Linked DNA regions of Homo sapiens. The protein of the gene in region 1 purifies or fractionates together with the protein of each later gene. This does not show direct contact. Each region holds a gene or a part of one and is shown on either strand. Other genes may lie near its edges. The genes, in order: KCNK4, TMEM87A and GOLGA5.

Region 1 (4,158 bases):
GCCAACACTTTCTTGAGTCTATGGTTGGAGTCTGACCAGAAGTGCCTCAGGGAACCCTGACGCACCCCCCCTTCTCCCCACATGGTAAGCATGCATGCTGGGGGAAGGGGCACCTGACCTGGCATTCCTGGTGGCATGGATCCTGGAACCCTCCCAAATCACCTGCACATGTTCATATGCACACTTTTCCAGGGGGAGGGGGTGTGTTCACCATGTTCTTGGGCTTTTCTAAGGCACATGACTCCAAGAAAAGTATGGGAACCGGTGTAGGTAGGGTTGCCAGATTTAGCAAACAAAAATATTGCTTGGGATGGACTTGTATTAAAAAGGCATTTGTGGGCCAGGTGTGGTGGCTCATGTCTGCAATCCCAGCACTTTGGGAGGCCGAGGCGGGTGGATCACTTGAGGTCAGGAGTTTGAGACCAGCCTGGCCAACATGGTGAAACCCCATCTCTACTAAAAACACAAAATTTAGCCGGGTGTGGTGATGAATCCCTGTAATACCAGCTGCTTGGGAGGCTGAGGCAGGAGAATCACTTGAGTCTGGGAGGCGGAGGTTGCTGTGAGCTGAGATCACACCACTGCACTCCAGCCTGGGTGACACAGGGAGACTCCGTCTCAAAAAAAAAGGCATTTGCAGTTTAACTGTAATTCATGTTTAAATGAGAGTCTTGGATTTTGTGTGGCAATCTAGACCGGTGAGTGAGACCTGTGCAAATGTAACATAGCCCATGCGCTATGGCCATTCATTCATTCATTCATTTCCCCCTCATCCCACCACCATCACACCCTGAAGGAGACATTATAGGTGCACAGTCCTGTGCCAGGCTCTCCAGGAAAACAAATGACCCCACAGTTGCCCTATTGAAAACACAGAGACCTGGTCCCCAGCCTCTGTCCCACAGCCTCCCACTGCACCCGTCCTCAGGGATACTGATCTGAAAGCAGCACTGGCACAGGGCCTCACTGGCACACAGCTAGCGCCAGGGGTGATGGGTGACAGCTGAAGGGGCTGCGGCCCACCCACGCACCTTGATGAGGAGGCCCAGCTCCTGGTCGCTCACACACGGATGGGCCCTCAGGAACTTCTCTCGGACCTCCCCCAGCTCCCTCTGGGCCTGCTGCTCGTGGGGCTGCTCCAGGGCCCGGAACACCAGGGCACCAGACACCAAGTAAAGCAAGACCAGCGCCAGCAGGGCCAGGAGCGTGGTGCTGCGCATGGCGCGCCCAGGCGCCGGGCCAGCTCCACTGCCCGCCTGGAGGGGCCGGGCGGGGGGCTCCTGGGGAGCTGTCGTCACTGCGGGCAAAACCAGGGATGCTGGGGTCACTGAGCTGGCCTGACACCCACACCCTCCTCCTCTATCCCCTACACACCCAAAGATCCATAAAGCCCCCAGCTGCACTGTCCACAGACATCCCTCTGGCTGGACACACCCAGTCCCCCTCCTATCTCCAGCCTTCCCCTTACCTCCGCTGCCCGGCCCTCAGCCCCTGTCTGGGACTACCGGGTGAGGAAAGAGAGGAGGGCACCGAGAAGGGAAAGGAAGGCGAGTGGGAGGCCGAAAGAGAGCCTAAGCCTGCCTAGGGGGAAGCGGGGCGAGCGAGGAAATGTGTGGAGCTTGGTGGGGGTGCGGGGAGCTGGCCCTCGAGGAGGAGGCTGAGGGGGCTCGGAGGCGTCCGAAGGGAAACCCGGAGGAGAGGCCGGACAGCGCAAGGCGGGGACAGGGGAATGGTGGGTCCCTGCTCGCCCGCTGCGGCTGTGACAGCATCTCCGCGGCTTCTCCGTCCCCTCTCGCCTCGCCCTGCTTCCTGGCTGGCCCTCCAGGGTGCCCCCGCGCCCCGCCGGGCTTTCGAGGAACCCAGGGGCGGGTCCCGGCCGCCGCACCCAGGCGAGGAGGGGTGCTGGGGACGCCCAGTTCCCGGAAAAAGCGGGGCGGGGGTCCGCAAAGGCCACACCGGGGCGACAGCCCCCGAGACAGCTGTCAGTCCGAGACAGCGGGCGGCGGCGCCCACGCGCACACACGCCCCGGCACGCGCCGCCAAGCGCGGGCACAAAGACCCGCGCGCCCACGCTCCATCCCGAGGCTGCAGCGCCGCGCCGCCCCGCTGCACGCACGCACCCCACCTGCACTCTCCGCAGACGCCCCGGCATCCCCGGCCCCCATGGGCGTGCCGGCCGCGCCAGGGCACCCAGAGCCCACGCACACGTGTGTGGACACTAGCGTGCACACGCCAGACAGCAGGGCCACCGCGCAGCGCCCGCAGCTCGCTCCCACCGCCTCCCCCGCGTCCGCACAGCGACGCCTCGGAGCGTGGCGGGCGGCGGGACCGGCGGCCACACCACTCCCGGAGGCGCCCACGCGCGAGAGGTGGGCACCCCGCCCGGCCAGTCGCCCCTGGGGCGTCCCTGCCCCTGAGTCCTGCCCGCGCACCGGAGCCCGCACCGCACTTACTGTCGGCCCCGCTGCGGCTGCGGCTGAGGCCCGGGTTCCAGCACGGCCTCGCCGGTGCCGACTGGGCCGCGGAGGCGGCAGGGGCGGAGCGGGCGGCCGCCGGGGCTGGGACCCCCCTCCCGCCGGCAGAAGCCCCCCTCCTCCCGCGGTTAACCCCTCCGGCGCCGCGCTTCCCTCCGTGCAGCGCCCTCGCCGCCGGCGCCGCCCCAAGCCGTTTACCTGCGGCCGCCTGGCTCCCCACAGCCGGCCAGCCCCGGGAGGTGGGTGGCAGAGGAGCCGGAGAGGGGTTGCAGCAGGGGCCAGCCTTCTAGCCTTGGACCGGAGCCCAGTGTGGCCAGCGGCAGGGCCCCGACCTGGGCATCAGCTGGCCCGTCTCTCCGGACAGGCACCACGCTAATCTGGCATCTCCCAGGCCCATTACCGGATCGGGAAGGGTCCGCAACTCTCCGCCCCTGGGGACAGCCTGGCCCTTGGGCTCAGCACTCATGAGGGAGGGGCTCCGCGGGACAAAGGGGTGGGGGAAACCCGGTGGGGCCACCTGGAATTGGCCGACGTGGAGGTTGGGACCCACCTCTGGGGGAGTTGCTGCTGGAGCACCTCCTGCCCCCACTCCAGGTTTTGGCCCTCTACCTGCTCCCCGGCTATCCCTCCAGGGTGCTCCCTGCCCCAGCTTTTGGTTCTCACTTCCATGCCCAGAAATCAGCCCCGGAAGGCTGTGGCTGAAGCTGCCTGCAGATCCCAGCATGGCACTGGTGCCAGCATCCACTCTCCCACTGCCTGAACACCCAGGCCCTGGCTGGTCCTGAACTTGCCCCGCCCTGTTCTCACCCACTTGACAACCTGTGACCTCTCCAAAGACCCTCTGGTGCCTGCTGGGGTCCTCAGCCCTCATGCTGGATGGCTTTCAGCCTGGGCTTTGAGGCTGACCACCCGCTACTGGTAGGGAACCTGAACAGGTTACCAAACTCTGGAGTCTCCCTGTTCCCACTTACAGAAAAGGGATGATTAATCATCACTTCGGGGTGCTGTTCTGGGCATTAAGGAGGCCAGTGTTTAGAAATCCTCAAAACAGAGCCTGGCACACACAATAAAGTGCCCCACAAACGTTAGCAGTTTTTATTTCAACAAAAAGTGATTGTCCAGCTTCAAGCTGATTCTCTATGAGTCTCAGATGCCCTCTCTGGAGGCCCTGAGGGCCTGGTGCCCAGGATGGTCCCAAGTAAAGGGTTTTGAAGCAGGCCCAGTGATAAGCCAAGGGAACTCTGAAAAGCTGGGACAACCACCTATGTGGGCAGGGGACAGACCCTCCAGCAAAGGACTCCTAGCCATCAGACAGACCTGCCAGGGCCATGGAAGCAGAGGGCAGTGACTATGCTACTAAGGACAGTGGAGAAGAGGGCTAACGGGAGGGCATAGCTAGGGGACCACCTGTACATCTGGGCAAACCCACGCCCTGGTAGGAAGATGGGGGCTGCTCAGTCACTGCGCCAACTCCCCAGCAAGCCCTGGACTAACTCCTGACTCCTAAAGACCAGGTTGGGGTGGTGATAGGGAAACAGGGCCTCCAGAAAGTCTAATCCATTGGGGTTAAGACTCAGAAGCTGCCAGGCATGGTACCTCATGCCTGTAATCCCAGCACTTTGGGAAGCTGAGGTGGGTGGATTGCTTGAGCCCGGGGGTTCGACACCAGCCTGGGCAACATGGT
Region 2 (3,719 bases), on another chromosome or scaffold:
GTACTCTCTGGCACTTAAGCTAACTAACCTCAAGAAAAAGAATGCCTCAAGAAAGAATGCAAATAGAAGAGGGATAAATGAAGAGCTGAAATATGAGGTTGATTTCCAGCTACTGTACATAAAATAAATGGTTCTCAACTTTTTAAAAACCACAGATCCTTCTGAGAATTTGACAAGAGCTAAGAACCCTTTTCCAAGTGAAATATACAAAACTTTCTATGTCCACCCATGGCCTTTCAGGTTAAGAATGTCCATTCTAAACAGATCACATTTGAACTCCAAGAAGAAAGTCCCAGACTTACCTGCCACTGCCAAAATAAGCGTGTTGGTGAAATGCCGATACAAAGAGAGTTTTACAATGTTCCTCCGAAGTTTTAATAGCTTCATTGTTTGAGTCAGGCTAATAAATATGTGTTTGCAGGTCAAGGAATTCAACATTCAGGAAAAAACAGTAAGCTAGCCAATTAGTTTTCAGGTTTCTTTAAGGATCTGGGGTCATGCCAATAAACTTATAGATCTCTCAGAGGCCTTATAGCTCTCTTATTCTCACTTAATCTCACAAACACCTCAAGATGAATAAGAAAGTCATCATTTTATTTTCTTTTCCTTTTTTTTTTGTGAGGCAAGGTCTAGCCCAGGCTAGAGTGCAGTGGCACAATCACGGCTCACTGCAGCCTTGACCACTGAAGCTCAAGCGATCCTCCCACCTCAGCCTCCCAAGCAGCTGGGACTACAGGCATGTGCCACCATGCCTGGCTAATTTTTAAATTTTTTTGTAGAGATAAGGTCTCGCTATGTTGCTCAGGCTGGTCTTAAACTCCTGACCTCAACTGATCCTCCTGCCTTGGCCTCCCAAAGTGCTGGCATTACAGGCACGAGCCACCATACCTGGCCGGAAGTCATCATTTTCAATGAGACATTAAAGAGAAGACAGAACCAGAATAAAGTAAGAATGTACAAAATCACAAGAGAAAAAATATAAAAAAGAGAAAGGAAGAGGCTTTCTAGAGAAACAAAAAAAAAAGACAGAAAATAAATAGAGAAATGGCAGAAGATAAAGTGAACATGAGTAACAGGCAAGGGACAAAGAGTTAACATCATCTTCTCTCTCCCTTTAAGGTGGGTAGCTCTGTTCTCATCTGTCCAGCAAATCTAGTTGAGGGTCATAATTATACTCGTGCCTATAATCTCCCAGAGATCTACACTCAGTCCCCTCATGCCATCTTAAGGAACCTGCCATCAGTTGCCTGCACTATCCTGAATTAAGAGGACCTTACAATTGGTTGAGAAGCTCATATGGTTTGCTTCCAAAAGCAATGACTCTCCATTTTCAGAACATTATTCTCAAGTAGAAGTTGCCAGAGAAAAACAGGAGGGGAATTGGTGACTACTAAAAATGGTATCTGCTCTCACGTTCAATGTTCTTTTCTTTTTGAGACAGGGTCTCACTCTGTCACTCAGGCTGGAGTGCAGCGGTGCGATCTCGGCTCACTGCAACCTCCGCTTCCAGGGCTCAAGCAATTCTCCTGCCTCAGGCTCCCGAGCAGCTGGGACTACAGGTGCAAGCCACAATGCCTGATGAATTTTTGTATTTTTTGTAGAGATAGGGCTTCGCCATGTTGCCCAGGCTGGTCTCAAACTCCTGAGCTTAAAGCAATCTGCCCATCTCAGCCTCCCAAAGTGCTGGGGTTACAGGCATGAGCCACTGCACCCGGCTCAATTTTCAGAATGAGAAGCAGATACAAAAATAAGGGATTTGGCACTTGCTCTGCCCTTACAGAGCCGTAGCTGTTACCTAGTCATTGGGTTATCTTACTGTACAATCCATTCCCACCTCCCTCTTCTCTCAACGCTTGCAGAGGTTCACAAAACACTTAGAAAGATACTAATCTAGAAAAGCTTTGGCTATTTAGTCCAAGGACACTTTAACTGAAAACTCTTATACAGCAACCCACTCAAATTCACAAAACAATTTTGTTTACATTCACAGTTTTTCAACAGTCACAATCTATCAGGTCAGTAATAATGAAAACTGCTAATAGGACCAAATATATAAAAACCAAAACAAATTCAATAAGATAAAGTCCAAAAACTTGAATCCTTTAGCCATCAGGCCAAGCCCCTAATATATAAATTTAATTTTAAAGAGCAGGAGAAAAAGATTGCTCAAATAGAAGCTTGTTTGTTATCTGCTGGTTGACTCTGCCTGTAAATGAATCAATTATTTATTCTGAAGGGTGGAAATCTTCAAACAATTCCAAGCCAGCTTTTGAATGAGGCAAGAAAACACTCACTCCATAAGGGTTAAAACCTGCTGAACATACAGAGTTTCAGAAAAGTCAAAGCACCTTACATAGTTCCTGAAATCAAATTTTAAGGATCAAAATCTTTTCATAAGTTTCAAAGCATTTAAGAATTGCTAGAGGCTAAAAGGCAGAGCAGGACCAGCACAGCCAGTGACTCTAACACTAAATGATTAGGTACACAAACAAGAAGTGCAAAATCAAGATGAAATGCTCACTTAAAAGAAAAAAGCCAAAAGATTTTATCTCGAGCTCGGTCCACAGTCACCAATTTCCAATTTGATTTTTAAAATTAAAAAAATAGAAACAAAAAAAACTGCTTACCTGAACCCTCAGGTTGTTAAGACTTAGCATGCACTGTTCCCCACACTAAGGAGTAATTAACAAAACTGATAAAAACTCTTTGCAGAAAGATCAATGGAAACCCATCTCAAGGGGAGAAAATGGACCATCATCAAACAAGCCAATGAGAAGGATATCCACCAGCACAAGGCAGTGTCTAGGAAAGCCAAGGGGATAAAGGCCAAGGAAGCAAGATCAGTCTGGGCCTGCAGACAAAGAAAAAGAAGTGGTGAAAAACAGATGTCTAGAGAGGCACAGAGAAGAAACCACCACATGATTCTGCATTTACATAATCACTGGAAAGTTTTTGCATTGAACTGAAAGAAAATAAAAAGAACATTTGACACCTAATCATTCTTCCCTTCTTATAAACCATCACATAGAATATACAGCTATAAGCATTTCACATAAATTGTCATTTACAATCTCGAAACATACTGCTAAGTACGAGTTTTTCATATATAAAGATCCATGTTAACAAGTGACCATATTCCAAAAAAGTTCTAATGTTTATAAGCCCCATCCTTAATCTATCATTTCCTATTATTGCAATTTTGGCTACAAGTCTGAAAAGACTTTTCTCGTATTTAAAAAAAATTACTGCATCATATACAAAGAATTATTAATTTCTAAAATTATAATATTTTACAAATAAGAGCTCACCCCAAAATAAAATGTAAGGCAATTATCTGTCTGAAAAACTATGCTGCATGTTTCCAGGAGTTTATATAGAGTATGTTTTTTATATAACCCTAATTACCCAATCAACAGGCATTACTGAAAGGATATCCATAAAATAACACAGGCGTCAATTGCTGAGAGGGCCAGGTTTACTATCAGAGTCAAGGGATAAGAAAAATACTATAGCAACAGCAGAAGAAAGAAAATGAAATTGACAGAGGGTTAAAGTTGCTAGAAGTCTAAGAGAATTACATACAGAGGACAGTGTGATTTGAAAAGCAAATGTGCATCCACAAAGTGTTTGATTTAAGAGGCAATTTATTGCAAAACATATTGAGCCGTTTTCTTGTGGGCAAAGCCAAGTTTATAGTTTTTACAATATTGAATCTAATA
Region 3 (3,500 bases), on another chromosome or scaffold:
TGACATGCAAAGACCAGTTTATAAAGTCCTAATTCTAGACTAGGAACAACAAGGACCAGCAGCTTTCACGTTAAATTAAAATATTTTAAAGTCATTCTCCTCCATCAAAAATAATTTTTCCTTTTCTGGGTGGTAGGATTATGGGTTATTTCCATTTCCTTCTTCAAACTTCTTTTGTATTCTTCAAATTTTCTATAATAAACATGATCATTTATAACATTTTAAGATTTTTTTTAATAAAAAACCAGAAACCTCCCAACCTCATTCCCCCATCTAGCTACTGTCCTCATGTCCATGGTCAAGTACCCTGCCTCCATGTCTTCAGCTCCCAGCGCACCCCGGAACTCTCTGTTGAGAGGTCCCCAGGGACCTCCTAGTTGCCAAGTCCAGGAATTTAGCTCGGGACTTGTCACATCAGAGCCGCGTGCTGTGGTTGGTGATCATGCACCACTTGAAACTCTCCCTCTGCTTGGCTTCATTGGATGGCATCAGTCTCCTCCTGGTTCTCTCCAATCTCTGACCACTCACCTTCTCAGTATTTTTCTTTTGCAGGCTATCCTTTTGCCCAATTTGTAAATGCTGATGTTTAAGACTGTGTTTTTAGACCTCAGCCTTTCTCCCCGTTAGGTTACACATCGCTCTTGCCTAAACTTACCTACTCTCCCAACTTACTTCTAATTACCTTTCTAACATTGTCACCTCAATGTTGCATCAATTTTGCATACTTACCATAATTCGTCATACTCTCCTTTAACCCTAACCTGTTCTCTTTCCTGTTTCCCCTTTTATTAACACAAGGAAACATCATTCATACACTTAAACCAAAAACCTGGAGTCATCCTGGATTCCATTTGCCTTTTTCCCCCATCCTTCCAGTTAAATCTCCACATGTCATATATTCTATCTCCCACATATCTCTTAGCTGTCCCCTGCCTGCCATCCTCACTGCCAAAAACTTTGATCAGGTCCTCATTATTTCTTATGATCACCTCTTCACCATCTACATGCCATTGATGCCACCCCTTATCACTTCCATGTTTTCAACAATGTACCGAATACCAGGCACTGTGCTGGGGATACAACGATGAACAAGACAGAGGCCCAAATCTCCCCTAACCTTTTCATCAGGCTGCCACAGTTCTCACACTCAAACCTGACCATGGCTTCTGCCTGCCGTTGAACTTTATGAGTCTTTTGCCTCCCATCTCTGAAGACGTTATGTTCCAGCAGTATGGAACTAGCTGCAGTCCCTTAAATATGCCATGTTCTCTCTGGCCCCCTTGCTCTGGCACAGGTTGTTCTCTCGGAAATCTCTTCCCTATCATGAGTCTTCCTATTCATCTTTCAAGTTTCTCTTTATACCACATCTCCTCAGTCCAGTGATCTTTGACAGCCTCAGGCAAGTTTTAAGGGATTCTTCTCTCAAGCTCCCATTGTACTGCATTAATAACCTTATTACGTCAATTATCTGTTTCTTTCCACTAAGATGAATGTTTTCTTAAAGGAAGAGGACACATCTTTTGAGCTTTGTATCCTCTGTGCCTAGTGAGTAGTTAGGTGCTCAATAAGTAACTTTTCAATGAATTAACAAATTAGGGTGATACAAAAAAGTACTTAGAAAGAAGAGTTTGAGGAGGAGATCAATATGATACTTCATGGAAGTAGCATTAAAAAAAGGTATTCATAGCCATTAGAAGTTTGAGACTAAAGAAAAAAGGTAAAGTCAAAAATGACCCTGAGGTTTCAAGCTTTACTGCCACATGGCAGTAACGTTGACCAGAACAGAAGAATGAGGGAGAAGTTGGTCTGGGAGCTGAACACTCCATGCCTGCACAGTAGGCAGCTGGGCACTGAGGTCAGGAGGTCAGGCTTGGAAACATGCTTGAAGTCATATGCAGGCGGCTATTAGAAGCAGAGGCAGCATACAGCAGTGCAAGGTAAGAAAGGACAATGAAAGAGGGTTCAGGACAGAGCTTAGGAGGACTCTGACTCTTTGGAGATTGGGAAGAGCGCCCAAGAGAGACAGAAACAGCAGTAGAAGAGGACAAAAAGAGAGCCAAGGAGATGTGAATAGCATAGAAGGCAGGAGTTCCAAGGAAGTGGGAGGGTTAACAGAGCCAAATGTTCTACCAAAATACAAGGTATGGAGACTAAGAAAAGGACAGAGAATATTTATTTAGGTCATCAAATATTTTTGAGAAGAAATTTCAGACATGTAGTAGGAAAAGAAGGAGATAAGAGTTAACAAGTTCTACAGAAATGAAGACAGCACGTACACAATTCTGGTAAGCATGACACTGAAAGAAAGGAAGATAGGGAAATAGTGCAAAGTGGTCACAAAGCTAAAAGAGACTGTTTTTCTCTTAGGCAGGAGTCCGAGATCTAGTCTTCATTTTTCCACTAAATAACCATGTGCTCTTGAGTAAGCTGAGCCAGAAGGCAGCAGCAGCAGAGAGGCACACACAGGAAGGAAGGGCATAGATCTATGGAGAAAGGGCTTACACATGAGATGGGAGATGGAATCAATGCACAGGCAGGAAAATGATCCTAGAAAAAAATGAAAGGACATGTTTTCCCTCTGAGGGACAAAGGAAAGAGAATTCAAAAACGACATTAGATGACTGTAGTCTTTCTTAGTAAAGTAGAGGGTAAGATCACCTTAGATCTGAAGGAGGGGAAAAAAAGCTGGGTGAGACAATTCTGAGAACTGGATGAGTCCTAAAGCAGTTGCTGCAAAAATTCAATAGGAGATCAACAAGGAAGAATAAACAGCTGCTCAACAACAAGCATTAATATCATCACAGTGAGTAAGGTGACAGGTTGAAGACCTGAACTAGGCAGTGGCAGAATGAATTTTTTTTTTAAAAGAAGTGGTAGGAACAAGAAACACTGCATCCTTTAATAAAATTTCTAAAGTAGAGTAAGGCACCTAAAGCTAGCCAATCAGACGAACATGAACAAAGCACCTCACACAGTATCTACACAGTCTCAAATTGCCTTTCAGTTAACTTGCACATCTTAACATCCAAAAGTGTACATTTCATGCTTACTTGCAGTATTCTAGTAGCTTTTTGCTTGTAGTCAATTAATTCCTGCTTAGAGGACTCCAAGTTCAACTTATACAGCTTGACTTGCTGCTGCAGTTCATCAACCCTCTTCTTCTCATCTGAGTATTTTCTTTCGGCCAGTGTAATTGCTTCTGCTAAATTCTGACGTTCCATTTCCACTTTATTAAGGCGTGCAGCAAACTCGCTCTGTGACAAATTTTTATATCATAATTAATGATATCATTTAGCTTTGAAACATATTTTACAACCATCCATTCGGATATCTTATGGGATTTATTAGCTCAGCCAAACAACATAGTAGGGATGGGAAAAAATTCTTAATTTGTTAGGAGCTAAAGTATAGGAAATGTAAAGTTGTAACTCCCAAACATGGCAATGCATTAAAATCAACCAGGAAGTTTGTTAAAAATATAGCCATCCAAGGCCTTTCCC

The links.
Region 2: the proteins of KCNK4 (region 1) and TMEM87A purify together in Homo sapiens (affinity purification with mass spectrometry; one large-scale study listed by BioGRID and IntAct). This does not show direct contact.
Region 3: the proteins of KCNK4 (region 1) and GOLGA5 purify together in Homo sapiens (affinity purification with mass spectrometry; one large-scale study listed by BioGRID and IntAct). This does not show direct contact.

Annotation. Positions count from the first base shown.
Region 1 is NC_000011.10:64,290,081-64,294,238, reverse strand, and holds the start of KCNK4 (potassium channel subfamily K member 4), read right to left. Parts: upstream 2,938-4,158; 5' UTR 2,673-2,937; intron 2,518-2,672; exon of another isoform or gene 2,454-2,517; intron 2,242-2,453; exon of another isoform or gene 2,121-2,241; intron 1,298-2,120; 5' UTR 1,221-1,297; coding exon 1,032-1,220; intron 1-1,031. UniProt on the Homo sapiens protein: K(+) channel that conducts voltage-dependent outward rectifying currents upon membrane depolarization. Voltage sensing is coupled to K(+) electrochemical gradient in an 'ion flux gating' mode where outward but not inward ion flow opens the gate.
Region 2 is NC_000015.10:42,228,410-42,232,128, forward strand, and holds part of TMEM87A (transmembrane protein 87A isoform 1 precursor), read right to left. Parts: intron 3,507-3,719; coding exon of another isoform or gene 3,435-3,506; intron 2,852-3,434; coding exon 2,783-2,851; exon of another isoform or gene 2,713-2,782; intron 412-2,712; coding exon 303-411; intron 1-302. UniProt on the Homo sapiens protein: Potential monoatomic ion channel gated by mechanical force, implicated in normal touch sensitivity through the generation of mechanically activated currents.
Region 3 is NC_000014.9:92,811,305-92,814,804, reverse strand, and holds part of GOLGA5 (golgin subfamily A member 5), read right to left. Parts: intron 3,255-3,500; coding exon 3,051-3,254; intron 1-3,050. UniProt on the Homo sapiens protein: Involved in maintaining Golgi structure. Stimulates the formation of Golgi stacks and ribbons. Involved in intra-Golgi retrograde transport.